Linked DNA regions of Homo sapiens. The protein of the gene in region 1 interacts with the protein of each later gene in a pairwise test. Each region holds a gene or a part of one and is shown on either strand. Other genes may lie near its edges.

Region 1 (7,019 bases):
TGGGGGCCGGGCCTGTGGCATCAGCCTCCCACCCCCACCCACATGGAGCGGGAAAGTCGGCAGAACCCTGGGGGCTCAATTGCTGCCAGAGTGGCGGCCTTCAGCTCGAGGACAAGCATGTCCTCTGGGGAGCCCCTCTGCATGGACGGGTTCAAGGGGCACTGACCCCAAATAGCCATCCCTCCCCACTTCACCTGGGGCCTGCACCTCCACCATCACCCACCCTGGGTGTGGGGAGGGGGTGATGGGCACACATTAGGATTTTGGGGTGAACTGGATGGAGGCCTTCTCTCCCCAGAGGTGAGGGGTCCGAAAGTCCATTTGTTCGCTCATTCAACCACTGACCCGGTGGGCAGTGGGCACAGTGGGTGCCTGGCAAGGGGCAGAGGAGGCTGGCTGGTTCGACGATGCTGCCCCATGCCTGTAACCCAGCGCAGTGACTGCTGGTGGCTCCCCAGCTGGGCATGCCTGCCCTCCTCGCCTCTGCGCTCGCCTGACGCCCCCATGCGGCCTGCAAGACACAGCCGGGCCTCCATCTCTGCAGGACCCTCCTGCCCCTCGCCTGGCCAGCGGAGTTTCCCTGGGCTTCACCCTTGAGACTGTGTTGCCCATTGCTCGGCCATCGGTCTCTCGCTGGCCAACGAGTGCCTCCTCCCACAGCCCCGTGCACGCTGCGGAGCCTGGCACAGGCCGGACTGCGCGGAAGCCCGGGAGGATTTGCCTGCGGGAGAGGAGGCAGGGCGAGGGGGCTGAGCCGCGAAGGCTCAGGGCTCTGAAAACAAGGGAGGAGGCGGCCTGTGCAGAGGGCCAGGCACTGGGCTGGGGTCTCGGCTGGCAGGAGGCCTGAAGGCACCACACAGGCCCTTCCCTGTCCTCAGTCAACAGGGAGCTGGTGCGGAAGGTGGACGGGAAGGCTGGGCTGGTGGTGCACAGCAGCATGGAGCAGGACGTGGGCCTGCTGCGCCTCTACCCTGGGATCCCTGCCGCCCTGGTAGGGACCGCCCCGGCCATCCTGCCCCTGCAGCCCTGAGCCCCAGCCCTCTGCAGCTCCCACGGCCCTCAGGCTCCCTGGGGCCCTCACCAGCCAGTGCAGACCCCGCGTGGACCTGAGATGTCTGCAGTGTGGCCCCACCAGCCCCAGGCCCTGTCCCCTGTCCTCCGTCGTGGTGCTTTCCAGCCTCTCGGGGAGTGGGCAGGGTTGGGGCGCGGCTCACAGCCAGAACGGGGTCCTCCATGCTTTTCTAGAGGCAGCGTCCTCCCGCAGATTCCAGCTGGCTGGGAGCCGCCCCTGCTGTGCTGGACAAGGGTGTTTGCTCTGGGGCCTCTGATGGCCTTCTTGGCTCCTCTCCCACCTCTCTGAAGTGTTTCCACGGCGTTCTGCCACACAAAGCCTTCGTCCCTACAGACAGGGCGACCCTTTGGGAGAATGTGGGGGGAGCAGCCCCCTCCAGGTGCCAGCAGCCATGCACGTCTGCCAGGAGCCCCACTGTCCCGGGAGCAGAGCAGGCACCAGCTGCCCCTGGCTTGGGGTCCCTCTCCTTGGGAGGGCATGGGGCGAGTCTCAGTGGTGCTGAGGGCAGAGACCCTCACCATCCAGCCCCCACCCCACCGCCCCACAGGTTCGGGCCTTCTTGCAGCCTCCCCTGAAGGGCGTGGTCATGGAGACCTTCGGTTCAGGGAACGGACCCACCAAGCCCGACCTGCTGCAGGAGCTGCGGGTGGCCACCGAGCGCGGCCTGGTCATCGTCAACTGTACCCACTGCCTCCAGGGGGCTGTGACCACAGACTATGCAGCTGGCATGGTAGTGCCGGGAGATCAGGGCCTAGCGGGGAAGGGGACAGCCTGAGGGCCTGGCAGAGGTGGGCTCTGACCCACCCCTCATGGGCTGGGGGCCGTGGTGAGTCGCCCTTCCTGCCCACACGCCCCCTCCTCACAGGCCATGGCGGGAGCCGGCGTCATCTCAGGCTTCGACATGACATCGGAGGCCGCCCTGGCCAAGCTATCGTATGTGCTGGGCCAGCCAGGGCTGAGCCTGGATGTCAGGAAGGAGGTGCGGGCGCTCTCGGGCTGTGGGCAACCCTCGGTGTGCACAAGCATGTCAGTTGGCTCCCAGGGGCATGTCTGGGGCGATGCCGGAAGAGCCTGGGGGCCGGTCCAGGGTGTGTCCTGTTTGGGAAGGGGAGGGATGTGGCTCCCTATAGTGGGGAAGGGCAGCTCTGGGCCCAGGCTCCCCACAGCCCTCACTGGACTCCCAGCCCAGGCTCCGCCTGTCCTTGTGCCTTCTCAGACTGCATGGAGACCTGAGGCTCCCCTAACTGTCGCCAGGAAATCCTCTCCTGCTCTCCACTCTTCCTCGAGGGTGGGGTTCAGACACAGCTGGCCCCAGACCCTTGGGTTGCCAGCCTCTGGGGCTGGACGGAGGCTTTTGGGGCCCCTGGAGACCCTGAGCTGGTAGGGCCAGGGAGTGGGGCTGGCCTTGGGAGGGGACCCAGCCCGCTCTGGCCCGAGGGATGAAGCACACACGGCCGAGGCTCAGGCCAAGGGCAACCCCTGACTGTGCCCGGGTAGCCCGACCCTCCAGGCTGTCCTGGGCTGCCCATCCAGCCCTGGCAGAGCCACTTCACCTCTGTTCTCTCCACCAGCTGCTGACCAAGGACCTTCGGGGGGAGATGACGCCACCCTCGGTGGAAGAGCGCCGGCCCTCACTGCAGGGCAACACGCTGGGCGGTGGGGTCTCCTGGCTCCTCAGTCTGAGCGGCAGCCAGGTAATGGCGTGGGACACGGGCCTGAGTGGCAGCTGGGGACTGTGCACCCTCTTGGTCACCCTGGGATGCACCAGGCAGGCACGAGCCCCTGTAGCCATCACTCGAGCCCAAACAGTTAGGCACACCCGGGTTCTGGGGCCCAGGAGGAGGGTTTGGGGTCTGCAGCAAGGAAGGTTTGCAGGGTCTATAAGGCAGGAGGCAGGAAGGGCCAGGCGGTGGGCACACAGCAGGGAGGCCTTCTGACTGGCGGCGCTGCCTTAGTGCGGGGCTGCCTCGGGAGCTGCCTGTCCAGAAGAAGGGCGGGTGAGTGGGGGCGGTGCTTGCTCTGGGCTCTCCCAGGCTCTGAGCACCAGGGGTTCCAGGTGAGGAACCCGGAGGTGAGGGCCAGCCTTTGAGCACGTCCCCTGCACAACTGAGGTGCCCAGACCTAGGAAGGGGGGCTTTCGAGGCCTGGGGTCTGCAGGGGGATGGGGCCTCCCTGGACCCCGCAACATGCCCCCTTGGCTGCTGGGCCAAACATCCAGGCCTGACATGGGGCCTGGCAGGCCAGACAGCCTTGCTCCCCACTGTGTGGGGTCCTGCCCCGGCCTCAGTGCCTCGGTTTCCCCCTACAGGGATGGACCTGTCTTGTGAGCCATGTGCTGGAACTGCCACTTGCTGGGGCGGGTGATGGGCAGATGGAAAGGACTGGCGTGCATGGCCTGTTATTAGGGTGGCTGCATAGGGCCTGAATGCTGTAGGGAGGCAGGCCAGAGGCAGCAGCCTTGTCACCAGGCCACGTTGTACCCGCTGGGTGTGGTGGCACCTGTGGGGCCTCTGCCAGGACCGCTGGGTGTGGTGGCCCCTGTGGGGCCTCTGCCAGGACCGCGGCCTTTTGGCGTCTTGGGGAGCTCCTGGTGCCCGGTGCTGGGGGCAGGTGGCTCTTCTGGGAAGGTGCAGCCGTGGGAACAGGGCCTTCCTTCCAGGGGAGGGGTCTGGCTCTGCTTCCCACGCTCTCCTTATGTGGGTGACCATTCCGTCCCGACGGCGGTGGGAGCAGACGGGGGAGTCTGGGAGGGTGGGTAGCAGGTACTGGCCACACACCCGTTGGGGACAGGGCTGGATGGTGGTCTCGTGGCCTGGCCTTAGCTCCAGGGGAAGGGGTCCTAGGTGGGCCTGGATGGGGTGGGGTGGTGAGGCTCAACCCCAGGCCTTCCGATGTGGCAGCTCAGGTTCCTTCTCACCCACGCCCTGGGATCTGCGGGCCCTTGTGTGGGGGCTGGCAGGGGTCATACAGCACCGGGGACTGCCAGTTCCACCAGATGCCAAAGGGAGGCGTGGGTCCCAGGGTGCCGCCTTCCCCACCTAGGAGGCAGATGCCCTGCGGAATGCCCTGGTGCCCAGCCTGGCCTGTGCTGCTGCCCACGCCGGTGACGTGGAGGCGCTGCAGGCGCTTGTGGAGCTGGTGAGCCTCCCCCACCCTGGGGGCCCAGCCCCAGCCACGCCTGGCCTGGGGGCTCTGAACCCTGTAGGCAGGACGGCCTTTCATCCACCCACTGACCACACTAAGCCCTTGTCAGCCAGACTGGGCAGCAGGACTGTCCTGCCAGCTTGTCAGGTCTCACTGAGGCTTTGAGGGTGGGCGCAGGGGCTGTGCTGGGCCCTACCCTCAGAGGGACCCCACCCTCCCCATGGCCTACCTGGCCCCGCCTGGGTCTCCCTCAGGGGTCGCATGTCCTTGTGTTACTCCAGGGCAGTGACCTGGGCCTGGTGGACTTTAACGGCCAAACCCCACTGCACGCGGCCGCCCGGGGAGGCCACACAGAGGCAGTCACCATGCTGCTGCAGAGAGGTGTGGACGTGAACACCCGGGACACGGATGGCTTCAGCCCGCTGCTGCTGGCCGTGCGGGGCAGGTAATGGAGCTAGGGCTGCACAGAGCTGCCTTGGACAGGTGGGCGCAGAGAGGCTGTGGGCTCCTGCACTCAAACAGCCTCCCGGGGCTGGGCTGGGAGAGGTGGAGGACACCTGCTTCCTAAAGGCTGCCCCCGCAGCCCGGGGCCCAGTAAGACCCCGGCCCAGAGTTCCTAGAAAACAAAAATGTTGTGGACAAAGCTGGGAGGACACGGTGCATCTCTGTGCACCTGTGGGTATGGGGGGCTGGGGTGGAGGTGGGGCAGAAGGTCCTGGCCCAGCAGCCAGACGCGGTCAATAAAAAGCAGGCTACGTGGCAGCAGATCTGGGGCTGTGACAGGCAACTCGGGCCCTGGAGGACAGGCCCAGCCTGTGCGTGTGGGGGTCCCCTGCCCCACCAAGCAAGCCCTGGCTGGTGTCTCTTCCCAAAGTCCAGAGCAGCAGCAGAGACGGAGTGTGTGCCTGTGCCCCTGCGTGGGGGGCGGGGCCAGCACTGGTGGGATCTGCGTCCCGTCTCCCCTTCCTACTCTTTATTGCCCCAGCCTGGGAAGGCCAACGACCTGTCTGCTGGTGCCGCTGCCCGGACCCATGGGCTGCTCAGAGATCCCAGGGCCCCTGGGGATTCCTCCCTGTGGGTGGGAGGACTTGGCCTGCAGGACCCTGGGTTCTTTTCGGGGAGGGAGTGCTCAGGAGTCCCATGGAGAGAAGGCCGGGGTGTCTGAGCCTGGGGTCATGTGACCCTGACGTGTTCAGTTGTGGGTTCCCCTCCCCAGCGGTGAAGCGGTGAGCCCTGGGGTGGGGTGTGGCACCTTTTGTGAAGTGGGTGACTGGGGTAGAAGGTTCTTTCCAGCCTCCTGTGATCATTGACAGGGTGCTCAAAAGAATAGGAGAGAACAGGGTGGTGGACAGGAGGGGGCGGGGCTGTGAGGGTCCCCCCGAGCAGGGCTGGGGTGATCCGGACTGGAGCTTCTAGACTGGGCGTCCTTGGGTGTGGGTGGGTGGCGCGGAGACGAGCTCACACAGTCCCGCCCCCTCGTCTCCTCCTGACTCACAGGACCAGGCTCACAGCACGCCCCCAACCGGTCTCCCAGCCTCGCTCCGCTGCCAGGCTCCCTGAGGCCGCCTGCCTGGCCCTGCTGTGCCTGAGTGGGGTATGGGGAGGCCACTGCCTCATACCTATTCCCAGGCTCCCTAAATGGGGTGATGGGGGGATCTGTGGTGCTTTGCAGGGGTGGGGGCACGGCCAGCGATTATGGCACAGTCTTTAGGTCACCCTGTACAATGGGCTGTGTGGCCTCCGGCCTCGGGCCTTTGTGCCTCTGCTCCTCCTTGCTAGAGCCCCGACCCCACCCCCACAGACTCCACTGTCCGGGTGCCCTGCCCCCACTCCTACCCAAGGGCAGTCGGCCGGATTGATTCAGTGTCCCCTGCGCCTGGCTGAGGAGGTCACCACGGGGTGTGATCAGCGTTTGGGTGTGCAGTGGGGCCGGTCAGCTCATGTAAGGCTGTCCTCTGAAATGGGCTGTCCCCTTGGAATGGGTTGGGGAGACTGCCCTGGGAGGAGCTATTCTGCTAGCACCAACTAATGCCCTCCCCTGGGTGCTGGGTGCGGGGCTGCCACAGAGTTGACCCCACCCCTTGCAGACCTCAGCTGCCCTAAGAAGGAGTACTGGACAAATGGAGGTGGTGGGATCCCGGGATGATGTCACATGGGCCTAGGCAGAGGATGGGGGGATGGGCCCTTGTCTGAGGCTAGGGCTGTGGGGTCTTGGGCCGGCCGGTCCCCGTCCCTGTGCACAGGACATGAGCTCTGCTGGCTCCTGAGTGAGGTGCAGCGGGGCTGGGCTGGCCAGGGCAGAAGGTCAGCATGCTCATTCTCACACAGGCATCCGGGTGTCATTGGGTTGCTGCGGGAAGCCGGGGCCTCCCTGTCCACCCAGGAGCTGGAGGAAGCAGGGACGGAGCTGTGCAGGTGAGTGCAGCTAGAGCACCTGCTCTTCCAGGGATGTGGGGGACACAGCTTGGGGAAGCGAAGCCAGACCTGCTGGGAGGGACAAGTGAGTCAGGGTGTGGGGGCTTTCAGAGGCGAGGCCCGCTGACCTCAGTGTGCACCAACCTGGCTGATGGGAAGAGGTGTCTACCCTGGACCATGTCATGGGGCAGGGGAAGGAGTTGTTCTCAGCTGAGCGAACAGTCCAGCAAGGGTGTCTCTGTGTGCACATGTGTGCATGTGTGTATGCATGTGTGTGGGTGCATGTGTGTGTGTGTGGTGGGCTTGAGGAGGGGTATGGGAATTGGTTGTCGGGTGTGAGAGGGGCTGGGGTGTGGACTGGGGGGTGGCTGGGGCTGCATTTGGGGAG
Region 2 (6,866 bases), on another chromosome or scaffold:
ACACTCTCTCTTTCTCTCTCTCTCTCTCTCACACACACACACACACACACACACACACACACACACACACACACTAGTTAGTGCCTTGGATGAGGCGGGGCAGTGTGTATATGGACCCCTGGACTTGCTACCTTCAGGGTTCCATACTCGTCCCTCCCCTCCTGGCTCTGCTGTCTGGAGTCTGGCAAGCGGGGTGTGTTCAGAAGGTCCTAGGCCTGTGTCGCATGTCCAGGCACTGGCCTGACCATCCGGCTCCCTGGCACCAAGTCCCAGGCAGGAGCAGCTGTTTTCCATCCCTTCCCAGACAAGCTCTATTTTTATCACAATGACCTTTAGAGAGGTCTCCCAGGCCAGCTCAAGGTGTCCCACTATCCCCTCTGGAGGGAAGAGGCAGGAAAATTCTCCCCGGGTCCCTGTCATGCTACTTTCTCCATCCCAGTTCAGACTGTCCAGGACATCTTATCTGCAGCCATAAGAGAATTATAAGGCAGTGATTTCCCTTAGGCCCAGGACTTGGGCCTCCAGCTCATCTGTTCCTTCTGGGCCCATTCATGGCAGGTTCTGGGCTCAAAGCTGAACTGGGGAGAGAAGAGATACAGAGCTACCATGTGACTTTACCTGATTGCCCTCAGTTTGGGGTTGCTTATTGGGAAAGAGAGAGACAAAGAGTTACTTGTTACGGGAAATATGAAAAGCATGGCCAGGATGCATAGAGGAGATTCTAGCAGGGGACAGGATTGGCTCAGATGACCCCTGAGGGCTCTTCCAGTCTTGAAATGCATTCCATGATATTAGGAAGTCGGGGGTGGGTGGTGGTGGTGGGCTAGTTGGGCTTGAATTTAGGGGCCGATGAGCTTGGGTACGTGAGCAGGGTGTTAAGTTAGGGTCTGCCTGTATTTCTGGTCCCCTTGGAAATGTCCCCTTCTTCAGTGTCAGACCTCAGTCCCAGTGTCCATATCGTGCCCAGAAAAGTAGACATTATCCTGCCCCATCCCTTCCCCAGTGCACTCTGACCTAGCTAGTGCCTGGTGCCCAGTGACCTGGGGGAGCCTGGCTGCAGGCCCTCACTGGTTCCCTAAACCTTGGTGGCTGTGATTCAGGTCCCCAGGGGGGACTCAGGGAGGAATATGGCTGAGTTCTGTAGTTTCCAGAGTTGGCTGGTAGAGCCTTCTAGAGGTTCAGAATATTAGCTTCAGGATCAGCTGGGGGTATGGAATTGGCTGAGGATCAAACGTATGTAGGTGAAAGGATACCAGGATGTTGCTAAAGGTGAGGGACAGTTTGGGTTTGGGACTTACCGGGGTGATGTTAGATCTGGAACCCCCAAGTGAGGCTGGAGGGAGTTAAGGTCAGTATGGAAGATAGGGTTGGGACAGGGTGCTTTGGAATGAAAGAGTGACCTTAGAGGGCTCCTTGGGCCTCAGGAATGCTCCTGCTGCTGTGAAGATGAGAAGGTGCTCTTACTCAGTTAATGATGAGTGACTATATTTACCAAAGCCCCTACCTGCTGCTGGGTCCCTTGTAGCACAGGAGACTGGGGCTAAGGGCCCCTCCCAGGGAAGGGACACCATCAGGCCTCTGGCTGAGGCAGTAGCATAGAGGATCCATTTCTACCTGCATTTCCCAGAGGACTAGCAGGAGGCAGCCTTGAGAAACCGGCAGTTCCCAAGCCAGCGCCTGGCTGTTCTCTCATTGTCACTGCCCTCTCCCCAACCTCTCCTCTAACCCACTAGAGATTGCCTGTGTCCTGCCTCTTGCCTCTTGTAGAATGCAGCTCTGGCCCTCAATAAATGCTTCCTGCATTCTTCTGCCTCCTGTGTCATTTTCAGCTGTGTCTGATGTCCTTCCCTTCTCCCCAAGCATGGAGCAGTCCATGGGACTCTGGGTGGCTGGGAATATTTGAGACATATGGGATGGGAGCTTGGGAAGAAGCAGCCATGGGGAGAGATGGGAACAACGGACAACTTGAGGCCATAGAAGTACCTGGACTGCAGTCCTGGTCCTGTCATGGACGAGCGGGGTGACCCTGGGTGAGCCCACTCCTTCTCTAGGCCTCAGCTTCCCCATCCGTATAATGGGGAGAGTGGGTCTAGGTAATGTCTCAGGGTGGTATTGTCCAGGCCCTGACCACAGAGCACTATCACCAGAGTGGGCAGGGCCAAGCTGGGTCAGGGCTCTGTGCTCTGAGGCTGTTTCCTCATGGCAGGTGGGGGTGCCAGGGCAGGAAAGGCGCCACTGTAAGAGGTCCCGTCTGAGCCAGGCAGCCCCAGTGAGGCAAGGACTCGGGCCATGAGGCATCCTCTCCTGGCAGGAGTGTCCTTTGGCCAGAGAAGGGGATTGTGATCCTGCTCCCAGGTGAGGCTAAGCTTGCCCTGGGAACACACCTCACTCTTCCTCTCTAGAAGCTCAGGCCCACCGAGGGCCAGGAAGCTAAGGTCAGGGTGGTGGACAGCAGAATCTAGGCTTCTGATTTGAGAGGTGTCAGAAATACACCCCAGGATAGTCTGCCAGCACACAGACACCGGTGGTCCCCACCCTGCACCCAGCCCATCCTTGCTAGGCCCACCCTTCCCCAGGAGTGTGTGCCTTGGACCCAATCTTTATCTTCGGCTGGGGCCTCACTGCAGCACAGTGTCCCATTGCCTACTGGTGATCTCATCCCAGTCCCCCGACACCTCAAAGTTCATCCAAAACTGACCTCAGTGTCTGCCCCCACCCCTCCTGCTCCTCCCCTTCCAGTCACCCAAGCATGAAACAGGGGAGTGGGACTCCCTTTCCTCACCTTCCACATCCAGTTCCTCACCAAGACCCAAGGGTTCTTCAAATAACCCTCAACTCCCTCTCCTCTCCATCTCCTTGTCACTGCCCTGATCCAGCCACCCCTGGTGACAGTCAGGTCCTCCTGCCTCCAGTCTGGCCCCCTCCAACCCATTTCCCACATGGCAGCAAAGATATCTTTGGAAAATGCCAATCCGATCACTCCATTTCACCACTTTAATCTTGTCAGCAACCCTTTATAAACACAGTTTCCTTTTGAAAGCCTGCTGGGATCTGGCCGCTGCCCCCACTGTCTGGGCTAATCTCTCAGCACTGCCCCCAGCTCCGGCTCTACTTGCCAACCCCCTACCCATCTTTGTAGGTGACATGTCCACTGCCTGCCATGCCCCTTCTCTGCCCAGTGAACTCCCACTCATCCTTCAAGGCCCAACTCCAGTGTGTCCTCCTCTGGGAAGCCTTCTCACCCCCCACCCCAGGCTGAGCTGGTAACTCCCTCCCCTGGGCTCTCCCAGAGCCTTCCCCAAAGCTTGTTTACCCGTCTGAATCTGACCTGGCTGAGCTCCTTGAAGACAGAGCCCTGCCTTATTTATTTTCAGTCCTTAGAGAGAGGCTCAGGGAATGTGAGAAGGTAGAGGGAGGGAGGGAGGGAGGGAGGAGGGGAGAAAAGAAGGCAGGCAGGAAGGAGGCAGAAGAAGAAAGGCAGGAGAGAAGAAAGGAAGGAAGAAAAGGATAAGTCAAGCAAAGATATTGAGGAGCAATTCATTCATCCATCTATCTATCCATCCATTCCTTCCTTCGACAAATATCTGCTGAGTTCCTATCAAGCACCATTCTTGGCACTAAGGATATAACAGTTAACAAGCGGAAGCTACCAGCAGCTGACCCTCAACATTTCCAGGTGACTTTGGTGTGTGCATATGTGAGTGTGTGTGTACACGTGGGTGCAAGCCCTCTGTCTGCACAGGCCTGTTGCCAGGGCACCTGTCTTCCCTAGGGTCTGGTGCTTTTAGCCTCTGGCTCCAGCTCCTATTGCAGCCCGAAATAAGGCTGTGACCCATGGCAAGGCAGGAATGATTCTCATCAGCTGAAGCCAGAGCTGGCTGCAGGGGACACCCTGCTCGCTGCCTACTGACTGCTGACCGCTGACTGCCTACAGGGACGCCACGCAACTCTCAGCTTCCCGACAGAGGTGTTAATCTTGAGGGTCTAAGATTCCCTCCTGCCTATTGTGGTCCCATCCTCTCAGGTACCAGCATCCTAGGGGAGCTTGGGGAACTCAGGGGAGTGGGCAGAGGAGGTGAGCCAATCCCCAGAGCTCCTTCCCCCGGAGAGGAAGGGCCCTGCAGTGGATCTAGGGAGTTTGGGGCCCCATGCAAGCCTCGATCCTGGTTTGGGAGGAGAGGAACTCTAAGCTCTAGGTTACCCTGCATTAAATGGGGAGGGTGTGGCTAGGATTAAAGGTGGGGAATAGGTAATGGCTCTGCTCAGGACTTTGGGATTTTTAGGCAGTAGAGGGAAGCAGCTTCTCTGTAAAATGAGAGACCCTTCCCAGCATCTGTGAATTTCTGTAAAGGGAGTGTTTATCAAGAAACAGATCTGTGGACTGTGGAATCCTAAACGGTTGTGATCGAGGCATTCTCAATCATCCCATGACCCTCACCCCAAATGCATGTAGACACACTCATGTTTACGTATAGTTTTAGGGGGTTTGTGAACACCCTAAAGCCCATCCATGGATCTCTGTGATTTAGCCTAACCCCCTACTGTTACAGATGGGGGAACTGAGGTGCAGAGCTGGAAAGCTACTTGTTCGCAGTTACAGAGAAAGCCAGGGACACCCACTAGACTCCAGTTGCACAATGCAGTGCCCACTGACTCCCAGGGCCCCTTGTCGGTGTTGGGGATACAGATGAAGGCAGATTGTTTTCTAAAGGAAGGAGTATAGGAAAACCTGGAGGCAAAGGAGAAGGGTACCCAGGTGGGTGGTCAGTCGAGGAGCTCAAGGGCTCTGCCTCTTCTCCAGAGGGCAAGTTAAGGTACCTGGGCAAGTTAAGGGCTCTGGACCTCATTTTATTTGCAAATCTCTTCCAAGATTCTTTGAAAGTGCCATGAGATACAAATAGGGGGATGGAACAGGAGGAAGAGAAGGGACGAGGGAGAAGAGAACACCACGGAAGTTAGCCCAGTAGCGGGGAGATGGGGAGGACGGGGGATGGTTCTCTCTGCTTGGTTGGACCAGCCTGTGCCCTCAAGCGTCAGGGCCAAGTGCCAAGGATGAAAGGGGCTCACCAGCCTTGCAGACCCCAGTGTAACCCCAACCTAGTCCATCCTCCCCCTTCCCCTAACTTAAACCTCCAACTTCTTTCAGCCTTGGACTAGGACTCTCCTGGGTCAACCGATGACAGTAGTGCCTGAGACCTTTGCCTGCCCCACCCGGATGCCCCTGGCACCTACTCTCCCTCTGATCAGGATGCCAGAGCTGGGAAAAGGCCCTAGAAACCACCCCTGAAGAGACAGTGCTTCCCTAGCAACATGAAAATAGATTCGTGCAAACTTGAGCACCTCCCTCTCGTTCCCTGGGCCTCAGTCTCCTCTGCACGGAGACCCTGAAGTCCCTTCCAGCTCAGACATCCCTTGCTTGTGATTTGGGGCTGGCCTAAAGCTGTTCAGGACTGGGGCAGGGTGAACCAGAGACTGGAAGGAGGTCTGGGGAGAAATGGAGGCAGCCTGGTCCATTTATGGGGGTCTCTCCTCCACAGGATGATCCCCAAGGAGCAGAAGGGGCCAGTGATGGCTGCCATGGGGGACCTCACTGAACCAGGTAAGGTGGTTCTAGCCTCATGCCTTCCTCAGACTCCATCATTTCCTTGCTCCCAGGCTGCACTCACTCTGGCCTGCTGGCCCCAGGCCTGGGCAGACAGGTGTGAGCTCCAGGCCAGCTCTGAGGGAGTGCCTGTAGAATTTGCTGCCTAGGCTGGGAAGCTTCCCTGAGGCACTGGGAGGGGTCTTGCCCATCTGTCCACAGACCCAGGAGCTGAGGCTGAGTGTCCCAGGCTGGGCCTTGGCTCTAAAATGACCCTGGCCCTGGCTTCATCTAAGGCCTCACCTCAGCCCCAAATTAAGCTCTGAAGACTCTGGTCCCAACTCCAGCCCTACCTGTGGCTGCAAGCTCTGCACACACTTGCCTTTGCCTATTACTCCTGTGGGTCTCACCGAGGCCTCTGGGTGGCCCAGGATGGCTGGGCCCCATGGCTAAGAGAGGGGAGTGGAGAGAGTGGAGTAGGGTGGGAAGACAGGGGAGTCGAGAGAGTGGAGCAGGGTGGGAAGAGCAGGCTGCCCATTTGAATACAAAACTTTCTACTTAAAGCTGATTCATCAAATGAGTAAATCATTTTTATCATTTCATTAAAAAAGTTTAAATTCATTTTTATCAATTTTAGAAGACCTCTTGAGGAACTCTTGATACAATTTTGGAATCTGTTTATTTGGTCTACTTTAGAGGATTTCAGGTATTTTAAAAATTAATTTAGGGGCTGGACACAGAGGCTGATGCCTTTAATCCCAGCACTTTGGGAGGCTGAGGTGGAAGAATTGCTTGAGCCCAGGAGTTTGAGACCAGCCGGGGCAACATGGTGAGACTCCATCTCTACAAAAAAAAAAAATTAGCCAGGCATGGTGGCACATGCCTGTGGTCCCAGCTACTCAGGAGGCTGAGGCAAGAGGATCGTTTGAGCCTAGGAGTTGGAGGCTATAGTGAGCTACGGTTGTGCCACTGCACTCCAGCCTGGGTGACAGAGGGAGACTCTGTCTCTAAAAAAAAAAAAAAAGAAAAAGAAAAAAATTAATTCAACTAAGTCAGAGTTCTCAAGCTTTATTGTGAATCATAATGATTTGATGTTGGTTAAGCATACAGAGTCCCAGCATCTACTCCTGAGGATTCTGACTCAGGGGACCTAAGTTAGGACTTGTGCATTTGCCTTCAGCGTGCTAAGGAGTCAGTCATATTTCATGACTTCATATGTGGCATCCTTTTAACCTATTTTGTGTGCTCTTGCCTCCTTTTGTTGATGTCCAGTTTCTTCCCCTAC
Region 3 (7,758 bases), on another chromosome or scaffold:
CAGCCCTTGCCTTTCCCCATGACCTGCCTGTCATGGGGATGCTCCTCATCCTCATGGCTAACATTCAGCTCAACCCAATGGTCCAAGTTAGAAACGTGGGCTTTGCTTGGCATTCCTTTCTTTGGGAGAGGCTGGGCTGCAGGGTGCCATGGGCACACAGCCTTCACATCAACTTTTTCTGGGGGTGCTCAGCTGTGGGGTGCCACCTGCTGGAGGCTGTTCCTCCCTGGGCAGCCCACACTAAAGAGGTGAATGTGGGAGAGAGTGAGGGAGTGCGTGAGAGTGAATGAGGAGCCCTGCAGGCCAGGGGATACTCTCTGTGGATGGCACTCTTTCTCCAGAACTCTTGGAAGGACGAGGTGTGTGGGGCCTGGGTCACAGCCCACTTCTGCCTCTGCTCCCTCCTGCAGCCTCCCCTGCTTTCTGTGGAGCTTGATCTCTAATAAGCATCTTGCATTCCAAACTCTGTCTTAGCTTCTAGCTGCAGACAGCCTACCCAGCCTCGCTCTCTCTTACACTTCCTCATCACAGAGACAGATCCTTTACCTTCCCAGCTATCTTGAATCCATCCCTCTCTTTCCAGCTCCACTGCTCTTGCTTTCATTCAAGCCCTTGTTCTTTTTAACTTGTCCTGTTGTCTCCTACCTCCTCTCAACTTCCCAGAGCCACCCCAAGTCACTATCAAAGTGGTCTCCATAAAAGGCAAACCTGACTATGTGACCCTCTCTCAAGCCCCTTGTGTCCATTTGTTCTTGCATTGCTAAGAAGGAATGCCAGAGGGTAATTTATAAAGAAAAGAGGTTTAATTGGCTCATGGTTCTGCAGACTGTACAGGAAGTATGGTGTTGGCATCTGCTTGGCTTCTGGTGAGGGCCTTAATTGTGGCAGGAGGTGAAGGCGGAGCAGGAGTGTCACATGGCATGAGCAGAAGCAATAAAGAGAGTGAGAGGGGAGGCGCCACATTTATTTTATTTTATTTTATTTTATTTTATTTTATTTTATTTTATTTTATTTTATTTTATTTTATTTTATTTTTATTGTTTTTGAGACAAAGTCTTGCTCTTTTCGCCCAGTCTGGAATGCGATGGTGCGATCTCGGCTCACTGCAAACTCCTCGTCCCGGGTTCAAGCGATTCTCCTGCCTCAGCCCCCCGAGTAGCTGTGATTACAGGGGCCTGCCACCATGCCCGGCTAGTTTTGGTATTTTTAGTAGAGATGGGGTTTCACCTGTTGGCCAGGCTGGTCTCGAACTCCCGACCTCAGGTGATCCATCACCTCGGCCTCCCAAAGTGCTGGGATTACAGGCATGAGCCACCACACCAGGCCGCCATATTCTTTTATCCAAGCAAATCTCATGTAAGCTCAGAGCAAGAACTCACTTATCACCAAGGGAATGGTGCTAAGCTATTCATGAGGGATCCACCCCCATGATTCAGTCACCTCCCACCAGGCCCCACCTCCAACACTGAGGGTCACATTTCAACATGAGATTTGGAGGGGACACACATCCAAACCTCATCACCCCTCTAAGCCTTTATGAGTGCCCAGCCTCCTGACCTCCTCACCAACCCAACCAACCTACCAGGGATTCTGGGAGACTCTGGACTGCTCAGGCCTGGAGCCCTTGCCCACACAGTTTCCTCCTGTGAAGTCACCTGGAGGATGCCTCCACTGGGGTCAGGGGTCACCTCCGCATCCTCAGGACAAGCTCACTCCTTTGGTCAAGTTTTTGTATCTCACACATATTACAAAATTCACATAGTCTTAACTAGGTTATAACATTAATTTCAGATCTTCTGCCTTCCAGAAGGCAAAACCACTTTCCCCAGGGCCCAGCTCATGGCACCTTCTCAGAAATTTGTGGATTCTCCCTCAGAGCCTCCAGAGGAACCAGCTCGGCCCACACCCATGCTGGATCCCAGCATGACCCATTTGGACTTCTTACCTACAAACTGGAAGATAATAAATTGTGTTATTCTAAGCCATTGATTTTGTGGTCATTTGTTACGGCAGCCATAGAAAGCAAATACGTGTTTAAGCATTGATTTAAAAAAGAAAAACCACAACATACTGGAAAGGCTCTCATTGTAAATTGCCCCAGACTGCCTGGCTTTGGTGAATCTCAAGGCTGACTTTAAAATGGAGTTTTTTTTTCCTGCTTCCTTCCATGGCTATCAAGCAAGCCAGCAACAGAAAATTTCATTTACATTTAGCATTTTCTGTCCCAGTGGTCTCCTCTCTCATCTGTCTCTATGTTGATCAAGAAGATATGTGGGCTTTCTGGTACAGGGTCTAAAATAAACATGAACAGCTCCCCAGAAAGGGCAAAGGGTTTTCTCATGAGTAGGGTGTGTGAGCTTCTGTGTGGGCTGCACAGCCTCCTTTTGATGCTGAGAGGCCTTCGGGTTTTTCTTTTTCCATCTTTCTGCTACGTTCCAAAATGTTGATACTATTTTCCAGGTAAGTGAGGTTTTACCGTACTACTGTGTTCTTGGAATATTAATTTCTGTCTTTGATTATATATCTTTTCATATATAGTAAATTTATGTTGCTATTTATATTTTAAAATGACCAATTTCCCTCCACTGGCCTCATAATAAAAGAAATAAAAGTCTCCTGTTGGCTAAACGTTAAGTACATAGCTTTGGATTTTTTTTCCTCCCTGGAGCCTCAGAACGTGTACAGGTGTCCTACATGCCTTTTACAAAAAAAGAATCAAGGGCTAGGAACCTAGGTTTTGAACGTGCATTCAATGTACATTCATAATAAAAGCTGAACGACTGGCACATTCATGGTTGCTCCTTGATGTAAATGAACGGCTGAATGAAAGTTTAGGGGCACAGCTCACCTCCAAGAGAGACCCTCTTCACACTTAGACCTGACCAAGGGATCTTGAATTCCCTTGTAAAACTAGCTTTTCCTCTCCATAGCAGCTGGCCTCTTCCTCCCGGTATCTTTGTAATCCGGCTGGGTGTTTTTTTTTCTTTTTCTTTTTTTTTTTCCCACACTGCCGTTGGATAAAAGATCCCGCCTTTGATTGAAATGGAATCTTCCACTATTGAGCAAGCCTTTGTTGAATGAGTCATCGGGGCGGCCGCTCATTGGCTGAGGCCGCTGGAGCCCAGGGGATTGCCTGGCACCGGCTGCAAGGCCCTGCTTCATTCACAGAAACGCTGGCTCGCTCGCTAGCCTTTTCATTCACACAAACAGCATTTCATTCACATTTTGCGGTTTTTGTCTGCATCTAATGAAGATCTCGCTTTGGGAATGATAGGGCTGTTTCGCTACAGATCTGGGGAGGACTCTGATAACCATCAAAATCATCTATGGGGTGTGCAATTGCTGTTGCTATGCAAGCTAGGGAAAGGGAACAAATGAGTGCCGTGTAGCTGTTCTGCTAGGGCTGCGGCACAGGAGGCGAGCCGTGGGGACGCGTTTCCTGTACCGGGGACGCCGCGGCTCCTCTGCGCTCTTGCGTCCTAGGGGTTGGCCTCACCCGCTCGCCCGCCATGAGTGGCGCTCATTAAACTCTGCTCCATAGAGCAGGGTTCAAGACTCAGGACCTCACGTGCCCCACATGTTCGGTCATGGGAGTGAGAGGACTCAGGGTGACCTGAGAGTGTGCTAGAGCTGAATTTATTCGCTTGCTCAGAAGTTGCGGGAAAACTTTGATAGTGAGTGTTTCACTGTGGAGCAGGTGATCCTAATGCATGAGGAAGCCTGGCAGAGCCCACTGAGGTCAAGAGTCAGAGGGCTTCAGTCTCGGGCAGACCTCTGGGGACAGCGAAAGCCTTGCTCTCCTAACTGAGAGGAAGAAGGCCTGTGCATTTTACTTGCAAGCCCGAGCCTGACTCCTGAAAAGAAGGCATATTTTCCTCCTTGTGGATTTGATGTGCAATAAGAACAGCTGCATTTTTTCCTTCCTGACTGCAGGGTTGCAAGCAGCAACTGAAGGAACATTGAAATGTATTTGTAGCATTTCTTAGGCGTTTTTCCAGAGCTTAAACACATTCAGTAGGATTAAAGCTTCAAATGCAGCCCCTTTTTTGGAATGGATTTCTGGAGCCTGTTGCCACTCGTGAAAGAAGCACTCTTCTTTTTTGGAAGTGGATATTCAACTTAACCCTGGCTGAGAAAGACTGCTGTAAATGAGCAGGGAAGACCCCTTGATTGGCACTGTGCAGAAGTTCATATGCAGATTTTTTTTTTTTTTTTTTTTTGAGGAACTGCATTGCCACAAAGACACTTGTCATCGCTGCTCTGTTAATTTGAAAAGAAAAAGCAAAACCCAGGAAATTGGTATTTTACAGTCACCTGGGGGTGAATATCCTTTTTGTTTTTTTCTATTTAAAAATTCCTGCTGCCTTCCAAGTCAAGATTCATCAGGATTCGCTGAAGATCTGATTCTTAAAAAGCCTTCGTCACATTTTAACGCATCGCTGTTAGACACTTTTACAGGCTCACACAGATGGGCTGAGCAGGGACGAGCAAAACCTAACAGAATAATGGGTTTCAGAAAGTTCATTTGACGATTTGAAGGAACTGGATTGGATTTACCTTTGGCACAAATGCAGATTGCGGGGGATGGGAAGGTGAAAAATCAAAGGTTGGAAGGAAATATCTGGGAAGGTAGAAAAAGGAAATTTGAGAATTGATTGGCTATAGTGTGCTGTCAGCGGGTGGATGTCGTTTTTTTCTTCTTTTTTTCCTTTTTTTTCTTCTGCTACAGGAAGTGATTTGCAGTGCTCACCGAGCCTTTGTTGAGAAGGGTCTCCTCTCAGAGTGAGTCATGCTTTTGCTGTGAGCAGCCCCAAGCAGCTGGGCGCTCCATCAGAGGCAACTATGACTTTTGCAAAGCAAACGTGCAACCCCAAGCAGCGGTCTCCCGGGCCGGGGCTGCGCGGCCGCCGCTGTGCTGGCTTTTAACGGTGGGAGGGCACCATCCTCTTGCTCTGCTCTCGTTCTCCAGAAGGCTGTCCCGGGGCCCCCACTCTCCGTCCCGCTCCGGGGACAGTGGCTCGCCTGCTATGCGCGGCAGCCCGCGCCGGGGCCGGCACCAGCAGCGCCCGGGCGGATGCAGCGAGCCCACGGAGGGGCATGCTTCCACGCACCAAGTATAACCGCTTCAGGAATGACTCGGTGACATCGGTCGATGACCTTCTCCACAGCCTGTCGGTGAGCGGCGGCGGAGGCAAGGTTTCGGCGGCGCGCGCGACCCCGGCGGCGGCTCCCTACTTGGTGTCCGGCGAGGCGCTGCGCAAGGCGCCCGACGATGGGCCCGGCAGCCTGGGCCACCTGCTCCACAAGGTGTCCCACCTGAAACTCTCCAGCTCGGGCCTCCGCGGCCTGTCGTCGGCCGCCCGGGAGCGGGCGGGCGCGCGGCTCTCGGGCAGCTGCAGCGCGCCCAGCCTGGCCGCCCCGGACGGCAGTGCGCCCTCGGCGCCCCGCGCCCCGGCCATGAGCGCCGCCAGGAAGGGCCGGCCCGGCGACGAGCCGCTGCCCAGGCCCCCTCGGGGGGCGCCGCACGCCAGCGACCAGGTGCTGGGGCCCGGAGTCACCTACGTGGTCAAGGTGGGTGCGGGCGCGGGCCGCCCTGGGGGCTGGGGGTTCTGGGGCCAGTTCGGGGCAGACTCCTTCATTCCCTGAAGCCCGGGGTGCGGGGCGCTCCCGCGACTGTCACGTTAGAGGCAAGCAAATGCGCACTCCTTAGCAATCAGCTCGCTTGACAGCGGTGAGGAGGGAACTACAAATGCGCTTTTCCCGCATCCATTGGGAAAAGGTTTACCACTCGGGTGGCCCGCTCCGTCCCGGTTTTCCCTAGGCTCCACTTTTTTGGCACGCCTTTGCCACCTGGCTTACCAGATGTCTGACCAGTGTCATGGGCGCCCAACCCTGGGCAGCGGGGGTCCGGCCTGCCTAGTATCTAGGAAACGCGCTGGGGAGAGCTGGGCAGCCCCCGGGAGGAGAGATGCACGGAGTGGCGGCCCTACTCCTGCTGTGTCTTCCCCGGCGGGAGGGTGGGTATCTTGTTGCCCCCCGCAGCAAGAATTCCCAGCTCCTTGCAGAGCAGGCCAAATGCTGTGCTGCTTTCTCTTCGACGGGCTTTACTTTCTCACCCAGTCCAGGTTTTCTTGGGGTTTGTCTTTCATTCCCTAAGGAAAGGTTCTGGTTTACAGCAGCGGAATGAGAATTCTGGGACTATTTTTCTGGTGACTGTAGTCTTCCATTTAAATGTGCTAAAAGGGAACTAGGGCGCTGCGCTTGGAGCCACAGGCTGGAAAGGAGTTTTTTCCTCCAACACAAAGATGATAAAATCACGATGTAGTCAATAAAATTCCACCCTTATGCAAGCATGTTATGATATTTAAGGAAAAATGCTCAGCACAGTTCAAGTAATCTGCCACGCGGTTATTTCCTTCTGCCGGTTGGGCAGCTCAGAGCTTTAACAGCCTCCACAGCCGAGCAGACAGGGGTTAAGGATGGAAGTTGCAGTATTTCAATCCTGCCACTCCAAGGCATGGCTTTGTATTGAGAAAGAAATGAGACACAAACTCTATCCCCACCGTGTCCTCAATAACACTGAGAAACCCCCAGGATGTCTGTTCCGTAAATATTGGCTGCAGATTCCAGTGTAAAAATTAAATAGAACACATCCTCAGGTAAAATGCAGTGTCTGGTAATTTCGGAACCAAAATATTAACAGAAATACTTAACTTTGTGGATTGCCTTTAACTATATAAAAAGTACTTACAGATGAATGTGGCCATTGTTGTTAAAAGAGGGCTTCTTCACCTTTTCAGTCTGCTTTTTAATTTAACCTTCAAACTATGGATTATTATATTTTACCAAAGGGGTATAGATGAGCATAATATATGCATATTTGGTTGAGTTTATTTTAAGAGGTACTGAATATTCTTCTTGTTTTGCTTATTTAAATTATATAACCAGGGGCCAAAACAAAAAGAAAAAAACAAACCAAACCAAAAATCCCTGACAGCTTTGAGGTTGTGTTTACTTCTGGGGTGTTAGCATAATTGCTGTTTTAAAAAGCCTACATTTCAAATAGACAAATAGACCTTGGCAAAGCTTTTTCTACCTGTCATATTAAACAGAGTAGTTTTCAAATTGAGGGAGAATTCTCAAACTTATGGCTTTAAATTTTTGTTTTAATCACTTTGCTTAGAACTTTGCTTTTGCTTTTTAAAGAAGGAAGGCCAGCATCAAGTTTGAAAGGTCAAATGTGGCAAAATAATGATGAATGTACGAAAATAAGACGGCTCTGCGTCGACAATCTGTTGCTGTAAGGTTTGTGACTTACTGGCAGCATCAGCAGTAGTATTCATAGTCAAAGGGCTGGATCTGCACAGAGCTTGTCTGTGTCTTGGGGTTACTTTGTGTTGCCTCAAATTTAAGGGGTTGCAGTGATGGGTTGAGGGGTGCATGGCATGACTAATTAGGGCTCTGTACCATCCATGTTTTGGTTCCTTGTTCATTAGCAGCCATGAATGGTGCTGTGATGTGAACATAAACGCAGGCATTGTCCTCTGCTGTCCTGGAGAAGTTTGAAATCACGCAGAAAGAAAACCAGATGCTAAAGTGTGTGTGCATGTTTGATTCAAATTATCACATGGCCCTCTGTTGGCGCACATGTGCAAATTCCCGCATTGCCCATGTTGAGTTTAAAACCTCGAACTTATTTTATTGAAAAATTGTTAAACTGAAAACAATCTTAATTTGGCGTTATTTAGAATTTTTGAA

Evidence for each region. Proteins that work in one complex are often made in the same cells at the same time.
Region 2: the proteins of ASPG (region 1) and MYOZ3 interact in binary tests that used the Homo sapiens proteins (3 or more experiments, as listed by UniProt).
Region 3: the proteins of ASPG (region 1) and SHC3 interact in binary tests that used the Homo sapiens proteins (3 or more experiments, as listed by UniProt).

What each region holds. Positions count from the first base shown.
Region 1 is NC_000014.9:104,102,685-104,109,703, forward strand, and holds part of ASPG (60 kDa lysophospholipase), read left to right. Parts: intron 1-878; coding exon 879-991; intron 992-1,619; coding exon 1,620-1,802; intron 1,803-1,937; coding exon 1,938-2,051; intron 2,052-2,643; coding exon 2,644-2,766; intron 2,767-4,114; coding exon 4,115-4,210; intron 4,211-4,497; coding exon 4,498-4,661; intron 4,662-5,713; coding exon of another isoform or gene 5,714-5,810; intron 5,811-6,017; coding exon of another isoform or gene 6,018-6,158; intron 6,159-6,544; coding exon 6,545-6,631; intron 6,632-7,019. UniProt on the Homo sapiens protein: Exhibits lysophospholipase, transacylase, PAF acetylhydrolase and asparaginase activities.
Region 2 is NC_000005.10:150,657,404-150,664,269, forward strand, and holds the start of MYOZ3 (myozenin-3), read left to right. Parts: upstream 1-3,847; 5' UTR 3,848-4,024; intron 4,025-5,537; 5' UTR 5,538-5,538; coding exon 5,539-5,599; intron 5,600-6,866. UniProt on the Homo sapiens protein: Myozenins may serve as intracellular binding proteins involved in linking Z line proteins such as alpha-actinin, gamma-filamin, TCAP/telethonin, LDB3/ZASP and localizing calcineurin signaling to the sarcomere.
Region 3 is NC_000009.12:89,175,800-89,183,557, reverse strand, and holds the start of SHC3 (SHC-transforming protein 3), read left to right. Parts: upstream 1-4,739; 5' UTR 4,740-5,097; coding exon 5,098-5,571; intron 5,572-7,758. UniProt on the Homo sapiens protein: Signaling adapter that couples activated growth factor receptors to signaling pathway in neurons. Involved in the signal transduction pathways of neurotrophin-activated Trk receptors in cortical neurons.